Linked DNA regions of Homo sapiens. The protein of the gene in region 1 purifies or fractionates together with the protein of each later gene. This does not show direct contact. Each region holds a gene or a part of one and is shown in the gene's direction. Other genes may lie near its edges.

What was found.
Region 2: the proteins of ARR3 (region 1) and USP33 purify together in Homo sapiens (affinity purification with western blotting, with the first as the bait; one study listed by BioGRID). This does not show direct contact.

The regions. Positions count from the first base shown.
Region 1 is NC_000023.11:70,273,681-70,278,810, forward strand, and holds part of ARR3 (arrestin-C), read left to right. Parts: intron 1-2,401; coding exon 2,402-2,601; intron 2,602-2,752; coding exon 2,753-2,812; intron 2,813-2,988; coding exon 2,989-3,056; intron 3,057-3,713; coding exon 3,714-3,849; intron 3,850-4,035; coding exon 4,036-4,120; intron 4,121-4,385; coding exon 4,386-4,458; intron 4,459-4,823; coding exon 4,824-4,961; intron 4,962-5,130. UniProt on the Homo sapiens protein: May play a role in an as yet undefined retina-specific signal transduction. Could bind to photoactivated-phosphorylated red/green opsins.
Region 2 is NC_000001.11:77,721,853-77,726,167, reverse strand, and holds part of USP33 (ubiquitin carboxyl-terminal hydrolase 33), read left to right. Parts: intron 1-405; coding exon 406-546; intron 547-2,724; coding exon 2,725-2,837; intron 2,838-3,971; coding exon 3,972-4,144; intron 4,145-4,242; coding exon 4,243-4,315. UniProt on the Homo sapiens protein: Deubiquitinating enzyme involved in various processes such as centrosome duplication, cellular migration and beta-2 adrenergic receptor/ADRB2 recycling.

The DNA.
Region 1 (5,130 bases):
AATAATACTTCAGAGGGTTGTTTTGAGGTCTAAATGGCATATGTAGGGTTACTAGAGCAGTCCTATTATTGACAGGTGTAATAACTGAGACCCAGAGAAATCAAGGGATTTGTGCAAGTCCTATTCAAGTCCAGGTATTCTGACCCTAAATATTATTGTTTCTCTTTTTCATGATAAAATATTTATCAAGGCATACAGAATTATATAATGAATACCCTGTACTCATCACCAAGCTTTAAAAAGAATTACAGAAACAAACTAAAGCCTCCTGTGTGTCCTTCCCTGATCCAGTTTGCCTCCCTCCCTCCCTACTTAACCCTTCTCCTCTTTCTCTCCTCCCTCCCCAGATAACGACTACCCTGAATTTGGTGTTTATTATTCTCTTGATGGCTCCATACTTCTACTCCATATTTATGTGTCTATGATCAACTTTGATATTGTCCTACATGCTTTTAAACTTTATATAACCGGTAACATACTGTACCTATCATTCTGCAGCTAGATTTTTTGTTCAGTAGCTTTTTTTTTTTTTTTTTTCTGAGACAGAGACTCACTCTGTCACCCCCACTGGAGGGCAGTGGTGCAATCTCAGCTCACTGCAACCTCCGCCTCCCGAGTTCAAGCGATTCTCCTGCCTCAGCCTCCTGAGTAGCTGGAATTACAGGTGTATGCCACCATGCCCAGCTAATTTTTGTATTTTAGTAGAGACGGGTTATCACCATGTTGGCCAGGCTGGTCTCGAACTCCTGTCCTCAAGCGATCTGTCCACCTAGGCCTCCCAAAGAGCTGGGATTACAGGCGTGAGCTACCACGCCCAGCCTTGTTCAATAGCTTTTGAGATTTAACCTTGTTGGCACAGGTCTTAGTCTGTTTGTGCTGCCACAGCAAAATACCTGAGACTAGGTAATTTATAAAGAACAGATATTTATTTTCTCACAATTCTGAAAGCTGGGAAGTCTAAGATCAAGGCTCTAGCAGGTTCTGTTGTCTGATGACGGCTGCTCTCTGCTTCCAAGATGGTGCCTTATTGCTGCATCCTCCAGAGGGGAGAAACATTGTGTCCTCACATGGTGGAAGGTGGAAGGGCAAAAGGTCTCCTTTATAAGGGTCTTAATCCCATTCATAAAGGAATTCATGAACAAAGAAGCCCCATGATCTAATCACCTCTTAATGGCCATCTTAATACCATCACAATGACCATCAAGTTTCAACTCCTGAGTTATGGAGAGGCCACATACAAACCATAGGGCATTCTTTGAAGTTCTAGCTCATTTATTTTAACCTTGGTTTAGTATTCCATTATGTGAATATACCACAAATTTTTTATCCATTCTCCTGTTGATAGATTTTTAGATTATCTCCAGTTTTATGTTCTGACAAACGTTGATGCGACGGCCATTATCATATGTATCTCTCCTGAACAAAAGCTCCTTTAAAGTCAACTTATTAGCTCATACTCTACGAGCAGATTTAATTTTACTGGATAATCCCAAATAGTCTTCCAAATTGGTTGCATTAATACTCCCACCAGCAGTATGTAAGAACTCCTTTTGCTCCACATCTTCATCAACACGTAGTGTTGTCACATTTAAAATTTTTTGACAATCTCATGGGTGTGAAATCTTATCTCGTTGTGGTTTTAATTTGCATTTATCTGATTACTCACGAGACTAAACATGTTTTCATATGTTATTGGCCATTCCTTCACACACTTTGCACACTTCTGCAAGGGCCTATTCACATTCTTTGCACAGTTTTATACTGGCATTATTGTTGATGTGTGGGAGTCCTTATATATTTTGGACTCTAAACTTCAGTGTGTTATATGTGTTGCAAAGATTTTCTCCCAGGCTTTCCATTTTTTTCTTTGTTTATAAAGACTTTGAATATAAAGAAGACTTTATAAAGACTTTTAACATAAATTTTACTGCAGTCAAATGTATTAAGAATCTTTTCATTTGTGCCCATAGCCTTCAATCTTTTTTTTTTTTTTTTTTTTTTTTTTTTGAGACAGAGTCTTGCTCTGTTGCCCAGGCTGGAGGGCAGTGACACGATCTCGGCTCACTGCAAGCTCTGCCTCCTGGGTTCACGCCATTCTCCTGCCTCAGCCTCCCAAGTAGCTGGGACTACAGGCGCCCACTACCACCAAGCCAGGCTAATACTTTGTATTTTTTTTTTAGTAGAGATGGGGTTTCACTGTGTTAGCCAGGGTGGTTTCTATCTCCTGACCTCGTGATCCACCCACCTCGGCCTCCCAAAGTGCTGGGATTACAGGCGTGAGCCACCGCGCCCAGCCAGCCTTCGATCATATTACATCACCTCTCTGTGTCTTCTTGACCCAGTTAAGATTCCCCTTCCCACTCAGGCCTGACAGACCACTCTCTTCCTCCTATGCCTGCAGTGTTTGTCATGTTGACATGTGCCTTTCGCTATGGCCGTGATGACTTGGAAGTGATTGGTCTGACGTTCCGAAAAGATCTGTATGTGCAGACCCTGCAAGTGGTCCCAGCTGAATCCAGCAGCCCTCAGGGGCCCCTCACAGTCCTACAGGAGCGACTACTGCACAAGCTAGGGGACAATGCCTACCCCTTTACCCTGCAGGTACTGACCCCAAGCCCTGGGCAGGCAAGGTCTCCAGGGAAGATTAAGAGAGGAAGCTCAAGAAGGACAACAAGGGAGAGGGTTCCCCATTTCTTTTGTATTTGTTTGTATTCTTTTCTACTTCTTTTCTGATCTCCTTTTTGTCCCCTAGATGGTGACCAACCTGCCCTGTTCTGTGACACTGCAGCCAGGTCCTGAAGATGCAGGAAAGGTGAGGACTGGGTTCTAAGAAAGAGGGATAGGTAGTGCCAGGGAAGAGGAACAGTGGGACAGTCAAGACTGGAGAAATGGACAGCTAAGGAAAGAGGTCAGGCATTTTCTTATAGGCCCATGAGGAAGGGAGGACAGCACTGGAAATGAGCTCTCTTTGCCCTTGTCCCTTTACAGCCCTGTGGGATTGACTTTGAAGTGAAGAGTTTCTGTGCTGAAAACCCAGAGGAGACAGTCTCCAAGAGGTATTCTTTGGTTGTCCCCAAAAATCCCTGCCTCCAGCCTCTGCCAGGAAACAGATCCTGCTCTCATGACAGAAATAGCCCCACTTCTAACCTCCACAGCCTCATCGCCACCAGTGACACCCGGTTCTGAGTCCCCTCTGACTTACCTTCTTTGATCTAGGGCAGGGGTCAGCAAACTTTTCTGTAATGGGCCAAAAAAAGAAATATTTGGCTTTTTGAGCCCTATAGTCTCCGTTGCAACTACTCAACTCTGCCGTTGTAGTGCAATCGCAGCCACAGATAGTATAGAAATGAATGAGTGTGGCTGTGTGTCCAATAGAACTTTACTTATGGACACTGAAATTTGAATTTCATGTAATGTCCACATGTCACAAAATAGCATTGTTCTTTGATTTATTTCAACCATTTACAAATGTAATATAACCATTCTCAGCTTGTGGGCCATAGGAAAACAGGCATCAGGCCAGATTTGGCCAGTGGGCCATAGTTTAATAACCTTTGGTCTACATGCTTACATTAAGGGACTAGAGGAGTTCTCTGAGGGAGGCCTTCCCCTGCTCCCATTCTTAAGCAACAATTGGACTATGGGGGTGGCATGGGAGAGGTCTGTGGGTCTGAAAGGAGGACGCTCTGGCTAATCTCTTGGTCTCTGCTCAGAGACTATGTGCGGCTGGTTGTCCGGAAAGTACAATTTGCACCACCGGAGGCAGGCCCTGGCCCCTCAGCCCAGACCATCCGCCGCTTCCTTCTGTCAGCTCAGCCCCTACAACTCCAGGCCTGGATGGACAGGGAGGTTTGTGACCCCCACTTTTTGCCTCCCACCCCAGAACCCCTCTGATGCCCTTTCTTCACTGATTTCCTACTTGGGCAGGCAGAGATGGGAGCCAGGGTGGCAATAGCGCTAAGGAAGCAGGGGTTCTAGGTCTCCATCTGCGTATTCGTCCTCCAGCCTTGACATGGGTCCCCGCTCCTGCTTTAGGTTCACTACCACGGAGAACCCATCTCTGTCAATGTTTCTATCAACAACTGCACCAACAAGGTCATCAAAAAAATCAAGATTTCAGGTGAGTTTCTTTTCCCATCCCTGTGCACCTGGTCCCAAAGCCACAGGTCTTTTCCCAAAATTCTATCTCACTTACCTGTCTGCATTCATCTAGGCTTTCCCTCTAACATGGGCTTGTCAAAATGCATATCTTGTTTTGTCAATGAGCATGTCTCACTGCATCATGTATAGTGTGCCTATGTATAAGGTCACATCTAAGGACACTGAGCTGGGGTCTCAAGGATGACTGACTGATTATAATCATGTGCTTTTCCTGGCTTGTTCAGTTGACCAGATCACAGATGTTGTCCTGTATTCACTAGACAAGTACACCAAGACTGTGTTCATTCAGGAATTCACGTGAGCTGGTGCTGGGGCTAGGACCAGAGAGCCAAGGGGTGGGGTGGTGGGAAGAGGTCCAGGAGGCAGTTGAGGGGGTAGAGTGGGGGAGAAGAGTGGTGGAAGATTCCAGGGAGGGATTCCCAGGAGAACTAGATGGAGGGGATGCAACTTACCCCCAGGAGTCCCATCACGATGCTGAGCGAGGGCAGGGGCATAAGGATTTCCCACCAGAACTAATTTCTCCCAGTCTTCAGTTAAACATGTTACCTCTCTTGGATACTCCAGTAGGTTCTTGTATAATCTTGTACAAGATACTCTTGGGAGTAAAAGTATGCTTAGTCAGCAAGCCCAGCCTAAATTCTTCTCTTGTTCTTCTTTTGTAGGGAGACTGTAGCTGCTAATTCCAGCTTCTCCCAGAGCTTTGCAGTAACCCCAATCCTGGCTGCCAGCTGCCAGAAACGGGGCCTGGCACTGGATGGCAAACTTAAGCATGAAGATACCAACCTGGCCTCTAGCACAATGTAAGCTCAAATATAACTCTCAGCCTCCATTTCCTACCCCTCAACCATTCCACATGCTACATTTACAGCTCTGAGGTTTCATGTTCAGTAAAGCCTACCTGTTTTTTAAAGTGTCTCTAGGGCAGTGTTCAGAGACTCCTCCAGGCCTAAAGGCCTGCAGCAAGCTCAA
Region 2 (4,315 bases), on another chromosome or scaffold:
GACCAGCCTGGCCAAAATGGTGAAACCCCATCTCTACTAAAAATACAAAAATGAGGTGGGCCTGGTGGCACATGCCTGTAATCTCAGCTACTTGGGAGGCTGAGGCAGAAGAATCGCTTGAATCCAGGATGCGGAGGTTGCAGTGAGCTGAGATCGCACCTCTGCACTGCAGCCTGGGGGACAGAGGGAGACTCTGTCTCAAAAAAACAAGTAAACAAAAATTAGTTGGATTTCTGGGTAGAAGATTACTGTTATTTTGCTTAGTAAGCACTTTGTTAAGTATTTAACTTGACATTTGTTAATATGATTGTGTTCAAAATATCAAATTAAGAAACCTTTAACATTATTGGACAGTTAGAATAATTTTACTATTTAAGGTAATAATGCAAATTTTAAATCTTACAGAATATATCACTGATGTCCATTCGAATGACCTGTCTACACCACAGATCCTTCCATCAAATGAAGGTGTTAATCCACGTTTATCGGCAAGCCCTCCTAAATCAGGCAATTTGTGGCCAGGATTGGCACCACCACACAAAAAAGGTAAAACGTTTCTCTTATTCAGTCTCTTTTGCTTTGGGTCTTAGTTTAAAATGATGGTTTTGGTACTTGATAATTTAAAGTGTTAATTATGAAATATGATTTGATCTTTTAAAATTGATAGCATAATTTTACATAGACATGATTAAAAATTTTGTGTGTTGGTACTCTGCTTTTAAAATTTTACATACAGTTGAATTCACTTTTTCTTGTATAGAGCTTTATGAATTTTAACACTTGCAGCATAGATTCTTGTTACCACCACCACAAACAGAATACAGAACAGCTCTAACACCCCAAAGAATTCCTGCATAGTACTACTTTGTAATCAGATCATTTCTCTATTCCTATGTTCTGGCACCCTTGATCCTCTTTTCTTATTGTTTTGCCTTTTCCTAGAATGTCATATAAATGAAATCATATAGTATGTAGTCTTTTGATTTTTTTAAATCTTTTCATATGTAGTCTTTTGAAACAGGTTTGCCTCTCAGGATAATGCATTTGAAATTCAGATATGTTACTGCGTGTCTGAATAGTTTGTTCCTTTTACTACCAAGTAATGTTTCTTTTTTTTTGTTTTGTTTTGAGATGGAGTCTCACTGTCGCCCAGGCTGGAGTACAGTGGTGCAATCTTGGCCCACTGCAACCTCTGCCTGCCAGGTTCAAGCAGTTCTCCTGCCTCAGCCTCCCGAGTAGCTGGGACTACAGGTGCACGCCACCATGCCTGGCTAATTTTTTGTATTTTTAGTAGAGATGGGCCATGCTGGTCTCGAACTCCTGACCTTGTGATCTCCCCACCTCTGCCTCCCAAAGTGTTAGAATTACAGGCATGAGCCACCATGCCCGGCCTAATATCTCATTTTTTATGGGTATACCACTGTTTATTTACCTACTGGTGGACTTTTGAATTGTTTCCAATTTTTGGCAATTATGAATAATGTTGCTCTAAAATTTATGTATAGGTTTTTGTAAGAACATTTTTTCATTTGTCTAGGACAAATACCTAGAAGTGGGGTTACTGGGTTTTATGTTTGTTTAATGCTTATAGTTGTATTAAACTGCCAGACTTTTTACCAGAGTGTCTACCATTTAGTATTCCTTCCAGGTATATATGGGAGTTCCAGTATTATGTTTTCTTAGAAGAAAACATAGGAGAAAGTCTTCATGGCCTTGGGTTAGACAAAGAGTTCTTAAAGACATTAAAAGCATGATCCATTAAAGAAAAAAATTAAAGATTTTTGTTGACAAAGGACATTCAGAGAATGGAAAGATAAGGTTGGATGTATTTATAAATCATATAGCTAGCAAAGGACATGTATCCAGAAATATATAAAGAACTCTTAAAAACTTTAAATAATAGAATCTTTTCTTCAAATAAAGCCTTACCTGGAGACAAAAACAAATAAGTGAAAACAGAATTGCTCTCAAGTCAGGATAGGGAGACCGAACCCCTTCTATTTCATCTTTAGCTTGATGATGACTTTCATCATCTTTCCCTCACTTTCTAACCTCTTCCCCTCTTCTTTTGACTTGTAAAACATTTAAGTAAACATCCCAGTGATGAAGCATTTGTGGTTTTGTGCTAATTTAGAATTTTGTTCATTTTCTCATATGTACATTTATGGTGGCCAAGGATCATTTATACTTTAAAAAAAAAAACAGGCTGGGTGCGGTGGCTCACGCCTGTAATCTCAGTACTTTGGGAGGCTGAAGTGGGTGGATCATGAGGTCAGGAGATCGAGACTATCCTGGCTAACATGGTGAAACCCTGTCTCTACTAAAAATACAAAAAAATAGCTGGGCGTGGTGGTGGGCGCCTGTAGTCCCAGCTACTTGGGAGGCTAAGGTAGGAGAATGGCATGAACCCGGGAGGCAGAACTTGGCAGTGAGCCGAGATCGCACCACTGCACTCCAGTGTGGGCAACAGTGCGAGACTCCACCTCAAAACAAAAAAACAAAAAAAAACAACAAATATCTTAAGCCTTGTCTGCTTAGTTTCTTTTATTTTTTTAATACTTATGCTCTTTTGAAGAGTATTTTGAAAATTTTCAACACAGTAATTTTTACAGTTTAAGGATTCTAGAGATCATATACAAGTAAGATTGACAAGACAAAAAAAGATTCCAGAGAAAAATGTTAAAGGAGCTGCTTTGATTTTTTTTTAATGTTTTTCAATCCTAGCTCAGTCTGCATCTCCAAAGAGAAAAAAACAGCACAAGAAATACAGAAGTGTTATTTCAGACATATTTGATGGAACAATCATTAGTTCAGTGCAGTGTCTGACTTGTGACAGGGTGAGTATGAGGGTATTAGAATACACAGAAAATTCGTGTCAAATGATTTTTAAAAATGTGACAAGATGATGTGAAAAGTTTAATTCCTTCTCTTTGCTATTGATGAGCATACATGCATTTATTGTGTTTACATCAACACAAATTTGATTCTAGGTGTAGAATTTTTTTTGGAAGTAGCAGCATCCTGTTTAAAGGATGGTGACCCATCATTGGACAGGCACATATTATCCTTCGTCATCTATTTTGGTTACATATAAAGGTGAGAAGTTGCTCAGCAACAAGAATTGGTAACACCTGCATATTCTCCCAGGCTGATGAAATTTGTATACTGGGAATCTGTTGATATTCACAGGTACAAAGCTGTGAATGTATCTCTTACATTTGGTCATATATGGTTTGTAAATATTTTTCCATGTTTAGGATGGGACTCAGATACTAAAGGTAGTATCAAATTCATAGACAATAACAAAGCATACATTAAAATCATCATGAATTTTTTAATAACACTTCTTCAAAGTTTCTTTGAGCTTTTCTTAAGTACAGTTTTACTTTAGTGCAATGATGAATATGAAATAACATCTCAAAAACAAAAAGAAGATTTCAATTATTGTGTTAGAATCTCAAGTCAAATCTAAGAACTTTCAATCGGGTCGTTTTAATGTAGGTTATTTTGGTACTAAATATTTAAGTGGAATTATCAGGCATGTTTTTAGCTATTTAAAATTAGATGCCAGATTTTGTCTCACCCTTTTAAAAAAATATTTTAAAACTACCATCAAAGGTCAATTTTCAAAAATAAATACAATAGTGCTTAAGAGTTTGGACCTCAAGATGCAGTGGCTGGATTTGGGGTGTTTAATGCTGCAGTGTCTGTGATTGTAATGGGGATGCTAATACTACTGCACAGGACTTACGTGAAGATACCTGGTACAGAGCAAGTGTGTTTTGTTTTTTGTTTTTGTTTTTTTTTTTGCTATTATGACTATGAAAGCAGTTCAATTTGCGTGTTTTTTTTTGTTTTTTGTTTTTTTTGCTTATTTAAACATGCTTTGATCTTTAGAGTCTAAAATCTAACCTTGGAAATGTTTTACTGCATTATGTTCATCCCATTTTTAAAACACAAAACAATTTTAGGTGTCTGTAACCCTCGAGACCTTTCAAGATCTGTCCTTGCCAATTCCTGGCAAGGAAGACCTTGCTAAGCTGCATTCATCAAGTCATCCAACTTCTATAGTCAAAGCAGGATCATGTGGCGAAGCATATGCTCCACAAGGGTGGATAGCTTTTTTCATGGAATATGTGAAGAGGTATGTATTTATTTTCTTTGTATTACATGATTGTTAAACCTGCTGTTTCTGCTGTACTGGCAGAACACTTCCTTTTTTTTCTATCAATGATGTTTCAGGTTTGTTGTCTCATGTGTCCCTAGCTGGTTTTGGGGTCCAGTAGTAACCTTGCAAGATTGTCTTGCTGCCTTC